Homo sapiens: one gene and its partners. The protein of the gene in region 4 interacts with the protein of the main gene of each other region in a biochemical or structural test. Each region holds a gene or a part of one and is shown on either strand. Other genes may lie near its edges.

Region 1 (3,500 bases), on a different chromosome or scaffold from region 4:
AGATTGCTGGGACAGCGACCGGGACCATATGATAGACCAATAGGAGGAAGAGGGGGTTATTATGGAGCTGGGCGTGGAAGTATGTATGACAGAATGCGACGAGGAGGTGATGGATATGATGGTGGTATGTGTATCTAATGAACAAAGGTTCTGTTGTCATTTTCTTAATGTTCCTGACACTTTGTCAAGAAATACAGAAATGGCAGTAATTTCAGTACCTATTAGGTTTTAAAACCTGTTCATGAAAATACGGATTCCCATGGCTAGCTGTGGGACTTGACTGATGCACATATTGGCACCTAGAAAACTTACACAGAAATTAAAATTAAGATGTTGGCATATTTTGACCTTTTTTTGCCTAAGGATGAAATTTAATTTACATGTCTGAACTTAATTAACTTTCTGAGATTTTAAATTTCCATCACGTTGACTGCTTTTTTCATAGGTTTTAAGTTGGGAATTGCAAACTTGCAATCAAGTTACACAGACTGTTACCACAAAATGTTTTTGTAAACTAAATTATAAAATTTATCTCTGGAAAGTGTGTAGTCATGTGTTTCTCCTTAAATTACACAGGTTATGGAGGTTTTGATGACTATGGTGGCTATAATAATTACGGCTATGGGAATGATGGCTTTGATGACAGAATGAGAGATGGAAGAGGTAAAATAAATATTAAAGACATTTTTATTCATAGGTAAATTTTAGTATTTGCTTTGCAAGCTCTTAGTGGTAATATAGGAAACTTGTATAAAGTTAATTCAGACAAATTTCAGTGCATTCCTATATAGAGCTTTATACCTTGTATAGTATGTATGTATACTTCCCTACTTGTATCTGTAATAGTTTATAATCTTGGCAAATTGTGTTTTCCAGGTATGGGAGGACATGGCTATGGTGGAGCTGGTGATGCAAGTTCAGGTTTTCATGGTGGTCATTTCGTACATATGAGAGGGTTGCCTTTTCGTGCAACTGAAAATGACATTGCTAATGTGAGTAATTTTTAATAACTATTAGTGGTTTTATACTTATCCTGGTGTCTAAATCTTTAAGCATTCTTAATGTTCTCATGTTTATAGCTTAATACCAAAATCCCTTGAATATAAAAATAGATCTACCTTTAATTCTTTTTTTGAGATGGAGTCTTGCTCTGTCCCCCAGGCTGAGTGCAGTGGTGTGATCTCGGCTCACTGCAAGCTCTGCCTCCCAGGTTCACGCCATTGTCCTGCCTCAGCCTCCCGAGTAGCTGGAACTATAGGTGCCCGCCACCACGCCTGGCTAATTAGATCTACCTTTAATTCTAATCACTGATGGATATTTTTGTATCCATTGTGTGTCAACCTACATAGGATTCAAACAAGTAAAAAGCTACATTCGTGAAGTCCAGTTAAGAGTATAATGAAAGACTGATCAGCATAGAATGGTGATGACTATACCATTTTGTGCTGGTGTCTTTTGTTGTACCGTTTTTTGTTTTGTTTTCTTTTTTGAGACAGAGTCTTGCTCTGTCGCCCAGGCTAGAGTGCAGTGGCGCGATCTCGGCTCACTGCAACCTCCACCTCCCGGGTTCAAGTTATTCTTCTGCCTCAGCCTCCTGAATAGCTGGGATTACAGGGGCACACCCCACCACTCCTGGCTAACTTTTTGTATTTTTAGTAGAGATGGGGTTTCACCATGTTGATCGGGCTGGTCCTGACCTCATGATCCGCCTGCCCTGGCCTCCCAAAGTGCTGGGATTACAGGCGTGAGCCACTGCGCCTGACCTGTATTAGGGTTTGAAAGAGTGAATATATAAATATTAGTGATTTGGTTTGGCTTTCTAGGCTAGATGGTGATTAGAAACTGAGGAGTTGGAAATAACAGGAATAGATGCTGCTGTTGTCACTGATGTGAAACTGGTTGGTTTCAGATTTGTTAGGAGGTCAGCAAACTTCAGTCCATGGGCTAAATCCGGTCACACCATTCCTCTACCTGTTGAGTGGTTACATTAGAGACCCAATGGCCATTCAGGCCAAAAGTACTGACTCTGGCTTTAAAAGCAATGGTGTGCTCTAGATCTTACTGGGAATCAGCTGGCCTGAGTTCCAACTGCTTTTAATGATAGTTTAAAACCTGGCTAACTTGTGATTAGAACCAAATGATATCTTTTGGGGAACAATTTCATATAGTCTTAAATAGGTGGCTTTATTCAAACCGCATAGTTCCAAATCATGATATCCCGTATTTCTCTCTGTGTGTTTGTGTGCTTTTTTTTTTTGACAGTCTCCCACTCTGTCTCTCTGAGGCTGGAGTGCAGTGGCGTGATCTCTGCTTACTGCAGCTCCCACCTCCTGCGTTCAAGCGATTCTCTGTCTCAGCCTTCTGAGTAGCTGGGATTACAGGCGTGAGCCACTGCGCCCTGCCTATCTGCTTATTTTAAAAGCAGTAAATTCTTTACATTATCCCTAAGTGTATACTCTGATATTCACAGAACCTCTGTAGTTGACTAAGTTATTAGTCTGACAGGGCAGTGGAAGGGTTTGTTTTAATTGATGAGGAAAAATCAAGGTATGTGGTAATTTACTTTAATATTCTCAATAGAAAAGTAAATAAGTGTTTCCTTTTATTTAGTTCTTCTCACCACTAAATCCAATACGAGTTCATATTGATATTGGAGCTGATGGCAGAGCCACAGGAGAAGCAGATGTAGAGTTTGTGACACATGAAGATGCAGTAGCTGCCATGTCTAAAGATAAAAATAACATGCGTAAGTGGTGTCTTTGGCACACAATCTTATTTCCTAAACGTGAATTTATAAAATAAGAGGCTCTAAGATCTGTAGGTAACGCTTGGCAGTTGTTGGGATTTAAAACCATTTGACCTCTATAATGGCTTTCTGTGGGCTTTATATATCGCTGTACTAGTAATTAATAAGCATACTTTGTTTAATATTACTTAATTGATCTTTTTTACAAAGCTTGTATTGATGAATTTTATCCATCATTCCTTTCTCCCCTGTTACTCTTTCTTTTTTTCTTAAAGAACATCGATATATTGAACTCTTCTTGAATTCTACTCCTGGAGGCGGCTCTGGCATGGGAGGTTCTGGAATGGGAGGCTACGGAAGAGATGGAATGGGTATGTAAAGTTTTTAAAATATGCAGGGTTAGCTGCTTATCGATGAGTCTCAATTTTTTTTCTTTTTTCTTTTTAAAGATAATCAGGGAGGCTATGGATCAGTTGGAAGAATGGGAATGGGGAACAATTACAGTGGAGGATATGGTACTCCTGATGGTTTGGGTGGTTATGGTAAGTATCTCTAGTTCAGTTTGTGTTAGTCCGCATATGTAGTGCAAACTTTAAAGTGCAGGTATTACTTTTATTATTTTATGCAGATATCTCCTGCTGAGTGATTCTTAATATCTTTTTCTTAAGGCCGTGGTGGTGGAGGCAGTGGAGGTTACTATGGGCAAGGCGGCATGAGTGGAGGTGGATGGCGTGGGATGTACTGAAAGCAAAAA
Region 2 (3,500 bases), on a different chromosome or scaffold from region 4:
GAACTTGGTTGCAGGGTGGTGGCAAAGTGATCGAGGCTGGCAGAGACCTGGTGAGCTAAATGCCTGGTTACTTTTATAGCTCGTAGCCTCAGGTGAACTGATGAGTTCCAAGAAGAAGGATTTGCACCCTCGGGATATTGATGCATTTTGGCTGCAGCGGCAGCTCAGTCGTTTCTATGATGATGCCATCGTGTCGCAGAAGAAGGCAGATGAAGTATTGGAGATTTTGAAGGTATGGCCAAGATGACAATAGTTGTATATTTAGTGTATCTTAGCACATGGGGACAGCGTATGAAGTGGCAGATGGCTTTGGCCTTAATGGTGGTGTTACCTGCTCTCTGCAGACGGCCAGTGATGATCGGGAATGTGAAAATCAGCTGGTTCTGCTGCTTGGTTTCAACACCTTTGATTTCATTAAAGTGTTGCGGCAGCACAGGATGATGAGTGAGTATATGGTGGGGTCTTCCTGCAGAGTGAGTACATATGTGTGCATGTGTGACATAGAGATTCTGTTGTTTTCACAGCCTAAGTGCTTGTTTCTTTTATTTTTCTTCTTTCTACCCTGAGGATGGTTTTTTGCCTTATTTCCTCCTCCTCACTTCCTTTGTTCCTTTTGTTGTGGGTAGTTTTATACTGTACCTTGCTGGCCAGTGCACAAAGTGAAGCTGAAAAGGAAAGGATTATGGGAAAGATGGAAGCTGACCCAGAGCTATCCAAGTTCCTCTACCAGCTTCATGAAACCGAGAAGGAGGATCTGATCCGAGTAAGGACTGGGTTGGTTTATCTGTCTGATTTCTGAGCTAACGGTGGCTAGAAGATTGCAGCATGAAGCTAAATTCATGTTAAAAGTGGAAGTTGAAAAAGTAATTTCCTAAATTCTTTGGGGTTTATCAGTGCATACAGGTTAGAATCAACACATCCACATTGGTTTGGTCATGAGACCAGTGACCTGCTGCTATCTTTCACCAGCACTGTGGGGACCTTTATTGTTTATTTACACAGTAAATCCATGGTGTTTACTAAAATAGAGTAACAGAACACATGTACTTGCTTAATGGAACCCACCCTTCGACCCCTCAGGGGTAGCCCTTGGTACTTAATTATAGAACGTGTATTTGTGGCATCCTTGTACTGCGCATTGCCCCTTTAAAAGTGTTTGTTTGCTTTGATCATTCTGGTGGTCCCCATGTAAAGCACTGTCTTTCTGTTTCACGACTTACTAGTCAGCACCTGTGACTCAAGTATTAGCTAAGCAGGGGCAGAAAAGGACAAGAACCTATGATACTGATGAATTGTTTTTGTGATTTTTATCTTTGTCCACTACAGGAGGAAAGGTCCCGGAGAGAGCGAGTGCGTCAGTCTCGAATGGACACAGATCTGGAAACCATGGATCTCGACCAGGGTGGAGAGGTAGGATCCAGGGCGATTTATTTCCCAGGCCTTGATGGATGGAAAACTCACTTGCTCGGCTTGCTTACTTCCTTTGTGTTTTTGTCTTTCACATTCCCAGGCACTGGCTCCACGGCAGGTTCTGGACTTGGAGGACCTGGTTTTTACCCAAGGGAGCCACTTTATGGCCAATAAACGCTGTCAGCTTCCTGATGGATCCTTCCGTCGCCAGCGTAAGGGCTATGAAGAGGTGCATGTGCCTGCTCTGAAGCCCAAGCCCTTTGGCTCAGAAGAAGTAAGTGAATTGCTTTCTTCAGTTCTCTGCTCAGTTCACCTCCTGGTTTGGATTTCAACCATTGACCAAAATGTAGCCTTGTTTCATATATAGTTTATTTCAGGGCTGAAAGCTGCAACAGAATTTTCCCATTCTGATTTTGAGCCCAGGGGACAATATTGATCTCTGGACTGACCTTTAATGGAAAGTTATGCAAAGAGATTGCCAGGGAACAAAATCCTGGCAATCCCACAATAACGTTTTGCTCAAGGATGCTGCCAACATGATATTGATGGCACTTCTTTTCTTCTAGCAACTGCTTCCAGTGGAAAAGCTGCCAAAGTATGCCCAGGCTGGGTTTGAGGGCTTCAAAACACTGAATCGGATCCAGAGTAAGCTCTACCGTGCTGCCCTTGAGACGGATGAGAATCTGCTGCTGTGTGCTCCTACTGTAAGCGCCACCCTGCCTGCTGTTTTCTTGTAGAATATGGTGTGGAGTTTCCGTTGCAAGATTGTTTTTTATTTCCACCCCCACCCCCTAATTCTTTGTCCTTTGATGGAAGAGAGGTTAAATAGTAGGATAAAGTGCCCAGGACAAGCTCTATTCTCTATTTGGGAAATAAGCCCATGGAAGTTAGGGCAGTGAGAATAACCAGGTGAATAGGCGTTCTCATCCCTGACCTCTCCCGTAGGGTGCTGGGAAGACCAACGTGGCCCTGATGTGCATGCTCCGAGAGATTGGGAAACACATAAACATGGACGGCACCATCAATGTGGATGACTTCAAGATTATCTACATTGCCCCCATGCGCTCCTTGGTGCAGGAGATGGTGGGCAGCTTTGGAAAGGTGAGGGAGTAGAACTTTCCTGCAGAGGATACTGGGTGCACCTATGAAAGTGTTGTGGACAGGCCTGGACCTCACCGCTTCTTGTATTAGGGCATCTCTGGCATGCCTCCTGGGATTGTTGTTATTTTTTATTTTTCTCTCCCCATTTCCAAGATGGAACTTAACCCAGGTACAGAGTTTCTGAAGTAAGAATGTCCTGAGCCATCTTTTACAAGGGTTAGCATCTTTCTTTCATCCTCTCCATGGCAATTTTCTGCAGTTCGTATCATTTGTGTTATTGAAGTGTTTATGAAACATCAAATGGATGTGGATGATAATAGACCTAGTGGTGTATTGTAGGTCTTCTTATCTACAAGTTGCCATTTCTTCCTCTTGTGTACAGAGTTCCCAGAGGTCTTTTTTTTTGAGACAGGGTCTCGCTGTCGCCCAAGCTGGAGTGCAATGGCACAATCATGGCTCACTGCAGCCTTAACTTCCCAGGTTCAAGTGATCCTCCCACTTCAGCCTCCCTGGTAGCTGTGATTATAGACATGTACTACTAGATTAGCTAATTTTTATATTTTTTGTAGAGACAGGGTTTCACCATGGTCTAGAACTCCTGGGCTCAAGCATTCTGCCTGCGTTGGCCTCTGAAAGTGCTAGAATTACAGGCATGAGCCACCATGCCTGGCCCCCAGAGATCTTTTGTCTGCTTTATTTGCCTGAGTTAAATTTGGATTTGTTTGAGGAAGATATGTTCATAAGATCTGATTCGCCTTGTATTCACCTGATGGGTTGATACCTGCTCCCAATGCCCTACACTCCAATTGCCCAAACAGAAAGCATGGTGTCCAGGCCCCTTCAAGCATTCCTGCCTGATGTAGTTTTCCTCCCACAGCGCCTGGCCACTTATGGCATCACTGTTGCTGAACTGACTGGGGACCACCAGCTGTGCAAAGAAGAGATCAGTGCCACTCAGATCATCGTCTGCACCCCCGAGAAGTGGGACA
Region 3 (3,500 bases), on a different chromosome or scaffold from region 4:
AGTTAGTAGCTTTGTGACCTTGAGCTAGTCACTTAACCTATCTGGTCTTCATTTATTTTATCTGTAAAATGGGAGTGGGTAATCTCTATTTTACCTCACTGGGTGGTTGTGAGACCCAACAGATGTAATGACTGAAAAAAAACAACATGCTAAATAAATTAATTTTAGAAAATTACATGAGCTGTTTTGAGGTCATTTTTAAAAGATACAGCTTCTCATTAGTCGTGGTGGTCCATGGGGCAGGGGAGAATTAATGTAAACTAGGTTGAAGGTACAGAGTTATAGAACTTCATAATTTGAAATTGCTGCTTAATTGGTAGTAGAATTTGGGTCTCATTTTTGTCTTTTTAAAGTTACCTTCTTTTTTTGGTATCAGCATGCCAGATACTTGTTTGCCATACATTCTACTGAAAAAACTTGTTAATATGTTTAAAGAAACTTCAAATTCATTTACGTTTTTTATTGACAAAGTACCTGTTCTGGTTTGTGACTCTAATGAAATTGACTTAATGTAAGAGATTACAATTAGGGAATAATGCTTCTGAATCTTGGTCACTGTTTTCTTTACAGAACCTAGGGAACTTTCCCCCCTTTTAAGTGGATGGGTAGGGATCTTTTTGAGCAAATGTGATACCAGTTGCTCCTTTATTTTTTTGTTTGCTATTTGATGGACTCAAGTCAAAACAGCAACCTACTTGGTTTTTTAATCTTCACTGAAATCATTCCTTGCAATTGCCTGTTTGACATGGACTTTTCCCTCATTTAAATCAAGCAAGCACCCACTATGTACAGAAAAACATAGAAGATAAAGGATGTGAAGAACAACTTACAACTCATGTCTTCAGATCACTTCCTCGAACAAGTTTCTACCTGTGATCTTTGTATTTCTGATTAACTGTACTTGCTTCGTTTCTGCATTACAGTATTGCATTTGTTGACATGTGTTGCTTTTGTTTCCCTGATTGGACTGTAGGCTTCCTGAGGGCAAGGATGATTTCATGTCAATGTGGTATGTGTGAAGGTATACTAATAAACCTGATTGGTCTGGGTGAGGTGGCACTGGAGGTGAGGACGTGGGAGGATCGCTTGAGGCTAGGAGTTGTAGCCCAGGCAACATAGTGAGACTGTCTCCACAAAAAAGAAAAAAAAAGTTAGCTGGGCATGGTGGCATGCATCAGTAGTTCTAGGCAACTTTGGAGGCTGAAGCGGAAGTATTGCTTGAACCCAGAGATTTGAAGTTAATAGTTATGATCATGCCACTGGACTCCAACCTGCTTGGAAGGGTTCTTTGACCCCAGCAGATTCTTCAGAATGCTTTCTCTTGGTTGGTTCAGTGATCAGGGCCTCTTCACATCTCCCCTGACTAACGTGCCATTAGAGTGCCTGGATGGATATCAACTGTCACTGCCATGTTTTAGTGTTAAGCCAGTGGATTATTCTGTGCCACTTTTTTCATAGGCCAAGCTTTAGTTAATAAGGCCAAGCCTGAGGAGAGTCCAGGCCAGATAGGGTGGAAGAGTAAAAATCTGGTGGATGTTACAGAATAAATATAATTTTTAGATTGTTGTATATAATCTTAGTGCTTGGTAATTTTTTTTTTTTTTTTTTTTTTTTTTTTTTTTTTTTTTTGAGACAGAGTCTCGCTCTGTTGCCCAGGGTGGAGTGCAATGGCGCGATCTTGGCTCACTGCAGGCTCCGCCTCCAGGGTTCATGCCATTCTCTTGCCTCAGCCTCCCGAGTAGCTGGGACTACAGGTGCCAGCCACCACGCCCAGCTAATTTTTTTGTATTTTTAGTAGAGATGGGGTTTCACCTTGTTAGCCAGGATGGTCTTGATTTCCTGACCTCGTGATCCACCCGCCTTGGACTCCCAAAGTGCTGGGATTACAGGCGTGAGCCACCGCGCCCGGCCAGTGCTTGGTAATTCTTAACGTGTAGTGTAATGTAAGCTTTACTTGTGTATTTTCTTTTGGTACTTGTGTATCATTTCAGCAGCTGTGTTACAGACTTGAAGACATAACCTCAAAGCAGTTGTTCTCTACCTCTCTGCTGGGTTTCTCTGTGCATAATGGATGCTTGCTGTTATTTGTAATAAATAGATAAGTATACCGATGCTAGACCTGTCCCTTGATTTTTCTTTTTTTTTTTTTAAGTAAAATTTAACTCTGCTAATGTCTTGGGTTTTTTAAAAATGTAGTTCTTTAATATCCTAACTTACTGATAGTTTTAGGTTATTGGCAAAAAGAGGTTTCCTAGACTGAAATAAGTCTGTTCAGTCATTTTTCTCTGAGGCCTTTTAGATTTTGGTTGTTTATTGTGATTTCAGTGATTTCATTAAACTGAATTGGATAGAAGAAAAAGGAACTTACCCATTATTCAGGCTTACCTGCTTTGTCTTGAGAGTGCAGAAGCTATTGGCAGTAGTCAGTTTCATGGTTATGCTTGTTCGTTTGTTGAGACAGAGTCTCACTTTTGTCACCCAGGCTGGAGTGCAGTGGCGCGATCTCGGCTCACTGCAACCTCCACCTTCCAGGTTCAAGTGATTCTCCTGCCTCAGCCTCCCAAATACTGGGATCACAGACGGGCACCTCCACACTTGGCTATCATGGTTATGCTTGATTTAAAAAGTCATTCAAATGGTCTAGAGTGAAAAATACCTGCTACTGTGTGTTTTCCTTAATAGCACTGTTCAAGTGATTATCTGATTTGAAGGCAAGACTTAGGTTCCAATCCTGGCTATGCATTTCCCATCTTTGTAACCTTGGGCAAATAATTTAACTTAGTACTTTGTGAGCTTCAAGTGCCTAATCTGAAAAATTTGATTATTACCACCTAATGTAGAGTCAGTTGTCATTTATATGCTAGACATTCTGTATTTAGATTAGGCTCCACAGATGAATTGGAACACAAGGCCCTTTCTCCACTTGTTTACAGTACTGTGGACCATTGCCTCATTTGTTAAAACTCTTTTAACTCGAACATACCTCTGTTATATGCATAGGTATCCTACTTGAAACATTTGACCCAGTGGCTCATGCCTGTAATTCCAGAACTTTGGGAGGCTGAGGCAGGAGGATCACTTGAGCCCAGGAGTTTGAGACTAGCCTGAGCAACTTAGTAGAGACCTTGTTGCTACTAAAAGTAAAAAATTAGCTGGGCATGGTGGCACATGCCTGTAGTCTTCAGCTACCTGGGAGGCTGAGGTGAGAGGATTGCTTGAGCCTGGGAGATGGAAGCTGTGCTGAGCTGTAATTGTGCCACTGCACTCCAGCCTGGGTGACCGTGAGACCCTGTCTCAAAAAATTTTTTTTTTTTTTTAGTATACAATAGTATTCCTTAGTTGATTATGAATTCTTTAAAGTCTTTAGCCCTCACCCTTTTTTTAACTTTTATAAGGACACTAATCCCAAGTAGTGTCCCTTTTTATCTCTGCATCTAGCACAGTAGCTGGCCCATGATAGGGATTAAGCGTTTGTTGACAGAATAAGTCTTGTGAAAATA
Region 4 (3,500 bases):
TTCCCAGAAGAGTAGATAACATAAAGTAACCAGCGATAATAATTTTCATTATCCAATTATTTCATGTGTCTCCATAACACTTAATACATCATGTTTCTCTGCACAGTAATTCACTATGTACAGCTAGGGTGAATAGCAGGAAAAAAGAGATCAGATGATAAAGAGAAGGGAGACAGATTTGTGTGACTTGTATAAGATACTTCGCCTCTCTAATCCTTTGTCCTTATCTGTAAGAAAGCAGCAGTACCCAGGCTGCTGTGAGGATCACATGAGACATTATGAGAGTTTAGCACAGGACTTGGCACATAACAAGCAGTTATTAGGATGATGTTAGTTTGGATTATGAATTCAAGATACTACAGCTACATTTTTTATACTTTCTTAAACATCAATTTAAGTCAATTTTAATTAACGTTATTTTACTAGGAGAAATGTCTCTAAAAACATAAGAATTCTATTTGAAGTCTACAATGATAATTACATTACTCTGATATCTTAACTTCCTCTTTATGATTTCAAATAATTAAAATTTAAGTTTATGTTTTCAACAAGTGCTTATTGAACCTCTACTCTTTGCCAGTCACTGTTGAGGACACAGAAGAAATGGATAAGATATCACTAAAAACAGCTTCTGCGATATCAGTGGGTATACATAAATTATTCACACTCAACAACAAACACAAGCAAAGCTGGGAGAATGTGCTGACAGGAAAGAAAATGAAGAGTGGGAGAGTGGACAGATGGGAATCGATGTGAAATTTTATAAAACATGTCTTGGCCAAGCTCAGTAGGGGAAATATGTGGAAAGTAAGCTAGACCAAACAGAGAATAAAAGTATAAATAAGAAAAAAAATCCAGAGGTCACAGTGGACCACTAGCCAAAATGGGTTCACAGCAAACAAACAAAAAAATGTAATGAAATACTAAAATTAAAGAAGTACAAATAAAAATGAGATTCTGTTCTTATCTGTCAGAATGGCAAAGATTCAAAGAGTAAAATATTCAGAGTTGTTATGGGTGTAGTGTGGAACTGGTCTCATATGTGGCTAGAAAAAGGGAGAACTGGTATAATCCTTCCAGAGAATAATCTGGTAATTATTTTTTAAATTGGCAAATATTTAAATTTGGCAAAGACTTAAAAAATATATATACCCATTGGCTCAATAATTCCTTTCTAGGCACCAATACTAATAAAAAGTATTCAAAAAATTAAATAGATGGTGTACTGCAATATAATGAGTGAAACATCGCAAGCAGCATCACTTTATACACTAGGATATTGGTTATAAAATGGTAATACATATTTTAGATAGAATATAATGAAACAAAAATTTTGCTTATCAAAAAATGTTAGTAACATGGGAAAATGCTTGTAAAACAATGCTAACTGAGAAGAGCAGGACAGGTAGGTAGATACAAGGCCAAACAGATACACACGGTGGAGAGACATATCCCAATTGTTAGGAATTTGCTGTGGTTGGTTAGGATCTGAACAATTTATATTGACTTTGTGATGACTTTTAAACGTTTTCTCTACCATAAGAATTTTTTATGTTTATAATTTATGCTAAAGAACAAGATGTATTTTTTGTAATTCAGGAGTAAAGAGGAGAGTGGGGTATTCCAGGGTGCTGTTCCTGCCCTAACCAGGAGCACGATGCAGTCATAGGCCTCTGCCCTCCTCCAGCAGCCTCGGCTCAGAACAGGACGAAGCCAACCCTCTCTGACCAGCACCACCTCGGGCGACCCCTGGACGCTCCACCTGCCCCTGTGTGTGGTACCTGCCCTGCTACACCTTTAACAAGCACCCCTGCAAGCTCCCTCCTCCTTCCTTCCCTGTCCTGTGGCTGCCCAGACCCAGATGTACCCTGCCTGGGTGTGGGAGGCCGCACATCAGAGCAGTCTATGGCTGTGGGCTTCACAGCTGAAGCTGGGCCGTGGGAAATGTTGAGACGAGTGAGTGCAGAGCCTGAAAGACAATACGGTAGAAAAGGTTACATCCGCGGGGGGGCGTCTGATGGCATCTGCCATTTATTGAGGATGGGTGCGAGACAGGGTAGCCATTATGATCCCATTTTACAGGTGACGAAACTGAGATCAGACAGGCTAGCTACCTTGCCCAGGGTCACAACAGGAAGGAAGCAAATGCAAGTGTGTCTGCGGCCACGTAAGGTGAGAGAAGCGCTATCAGGGGTGGTCTGACAGAATCCCCAGGCCAGGGAGCAGTTGTCCTCTATCCTGTGGGGTCAAAGGAGGGGACAAGAAGGCTCTCCTTGAGGTAGCTCCAAAGAAAAGACCCCGCCAGAGCACAGTGTGCTACCAAACGCTGGAACAGCCTGGAGACTGTCCCTGTCTCTTCTCTGAGGTTTCTCATTTCAGAGAAACTCTCATCCGTCTGGCTTCCCCATGGCCCTTACTCTGTGATTCTCTTATGTATCAGCTGTTAAACCAATAAATCCGCCAAATTGTTGGGATGCCTATAATGGCTTTGGGTCTCCACTCCCACAGAGGGAATCTTATTCTAAAGTTCTAAATGTATCAGTCATATTTTCCTGAAGACAACAGAAATGGTTGTTTCATTTACTTATTTTTATGTATGCTTTTTCAAGAGTTGTTAACCTGTGTTTGTGTTTAAATAAAGATCTGTTTTGCAAAACAAAAACTTTATGAGATAATCACTTATAAACGTAGATAATTAAGAAATGGTTCAGGCTCAGCACATTGTCTGAGAGCATTGCAGTCCTGCACTGTATTTCATGGGGGAAGAAAAGCCCACAGATGGAGCCATTCTCAATCCTGCTTTCCAGGGTCACTGAGTCAGGGTGCCTGGCATGCATGGGTGCATGCACACACAGGCAGAGGGCCAGGGAGAACTGTGCTGTGTCCACAGAGGGCAGCCTGGATCACAGAGCTGACCAAGAACGGAAGCAGCAAGTTGTTTTAAAGTAGTTGCCTGTAAAGCCACTTTTCGGCAAGGACAAACACTCAGAGCATGCTCTGAAATGACTTATGCACAGCAGGGCAGCGGCATTTTGCCCCTGGCCTTCCTTCCATTCTCCCGGAATCCCCCTAAAGTAACAAGGACTGACGCAATTCGTATTTCACTTAGCCAACAGGTTGATGAAAAATCATAAATCTGTAGCTATTAAACTCATTAATCACATCCATCAAAATTCTGTGAGGAGTTAACTTTCTTCATATAACTCTTAGTCTTAATTAAGTTTCCCTCACATGTGATAGCAAACGTTCAAGAAGTGCAAATGTGCAGACGTGGCGTATATAATGCAAGCTTTATGTCTTTAAATTAATAAAATTGAGTCCTATCAGGTCGTGTTTCAATTACCATCAAACCTTCCAACCTCTGTTAATTCAAAAAAAAGTAACTTCTTTAGGCAAGTCATGGAAATAGCACTAGGGTGCCCTCAGGTCTCCACCAAGCCTTGTTAGTAACTTTCCATGTCCTGTCTGATTTTTAAGATGCTTTCCCCTGATGCTGCTGC

What was found.
Region 1: the proteins of ERG (region 4) and HNRNPH3 form a complex in vitro, tested with the Homo sapiens proteins (one large-scale study listed by BioGRID).
Region 2: the proteins of ERG (region 4) and SNRNP200 form a complex in vitro, tested with the Homo sapiens proteins (one large-scale study listed by BioGRID).
Region 3: the proteins of ERG (region 4) and TRIP12 form a complex in vitro, tested with the Homo sapiens proteins (one large-scale study listed by BioGRID).

The regions. Positions count from the first base shown.
Region 1 is NC_000010.11:68,338,564-68,342,063, forward strand, and holds part of HNRNPH3 (heterogeneous nuclear ribonucleoprotein H3), read left to right. Parts: coding exon 1-124; intron 125-576; coding exon 577-663; intron 664-876; coding exon 877-992; intron 993-2,548; exon of another isoform or gene 2,549-2,610; coding exon 2,611-2,746; intron 2,747-3,021; coding exon 3,022-3,117; intron 3,118-3,195; coding exon 3,196-3,288; intron 3,289-3,414; coding exon 3,415-3,491; 3' UTR 3,492-3,500.
Region 2 is NC_000002.12:96,295,547-96,299,046, reverse strand, and holds part of SNRNP200 (U5 small nuclear ribonucleoprotein 200 kDa helicase), read left to right. Parts: intron 1-79; coding exon 80-232; intron 233-344; coding exon 345-444; intron 445-626; coding exon 627-763; intron 764-1,326; coding exon 1,327-1,410; intron 1,411-1,510; coding exon 1,511-1,684; intron 1,685-1,976; coding exon 1,977-2,114; intron 2,115-2,355; coding exon 2,356-2,511; intron 2,512-3,388; coding exon 3,389-3,500. UniProt on the Homo sapiens protein: Catalyzes the ATP-dependent unwinding of U4/U6 RNA duplices, an essential step in the assembly of a catalytically active spliceosome. Plays a role in pre-mRNA splicing as a core component of precatalytic, catalytic and postcatalytic spliceosomal complexes.
Region 3 is NC_000002.12:229,915,510-229,919,009, reverse strand, and holds part of TRIP12 (E3 ubiquitin-protein ligase TRIP12), read left to right. Parts: intron 1-3,500. UniProt on the Homo sapiens protein: E3 ubiquitin-protein ligase involved in ubiquitin fusion degradation (UFD) pathway and regulation of DNA repair.
Region 4 is NC_000021.9:38,491,978-38,495,477, forward strand, and holds part of ERG (transcriptional regulator ERG), read right to left. Parts: intron 1-3,500. UniProt on the Homo sapiens protein: Transcriptional regulator. May participate in transcriptional regulation through the recruitment of SETDB1 histone methyltransferase and subsequent modification of local chromatin structure.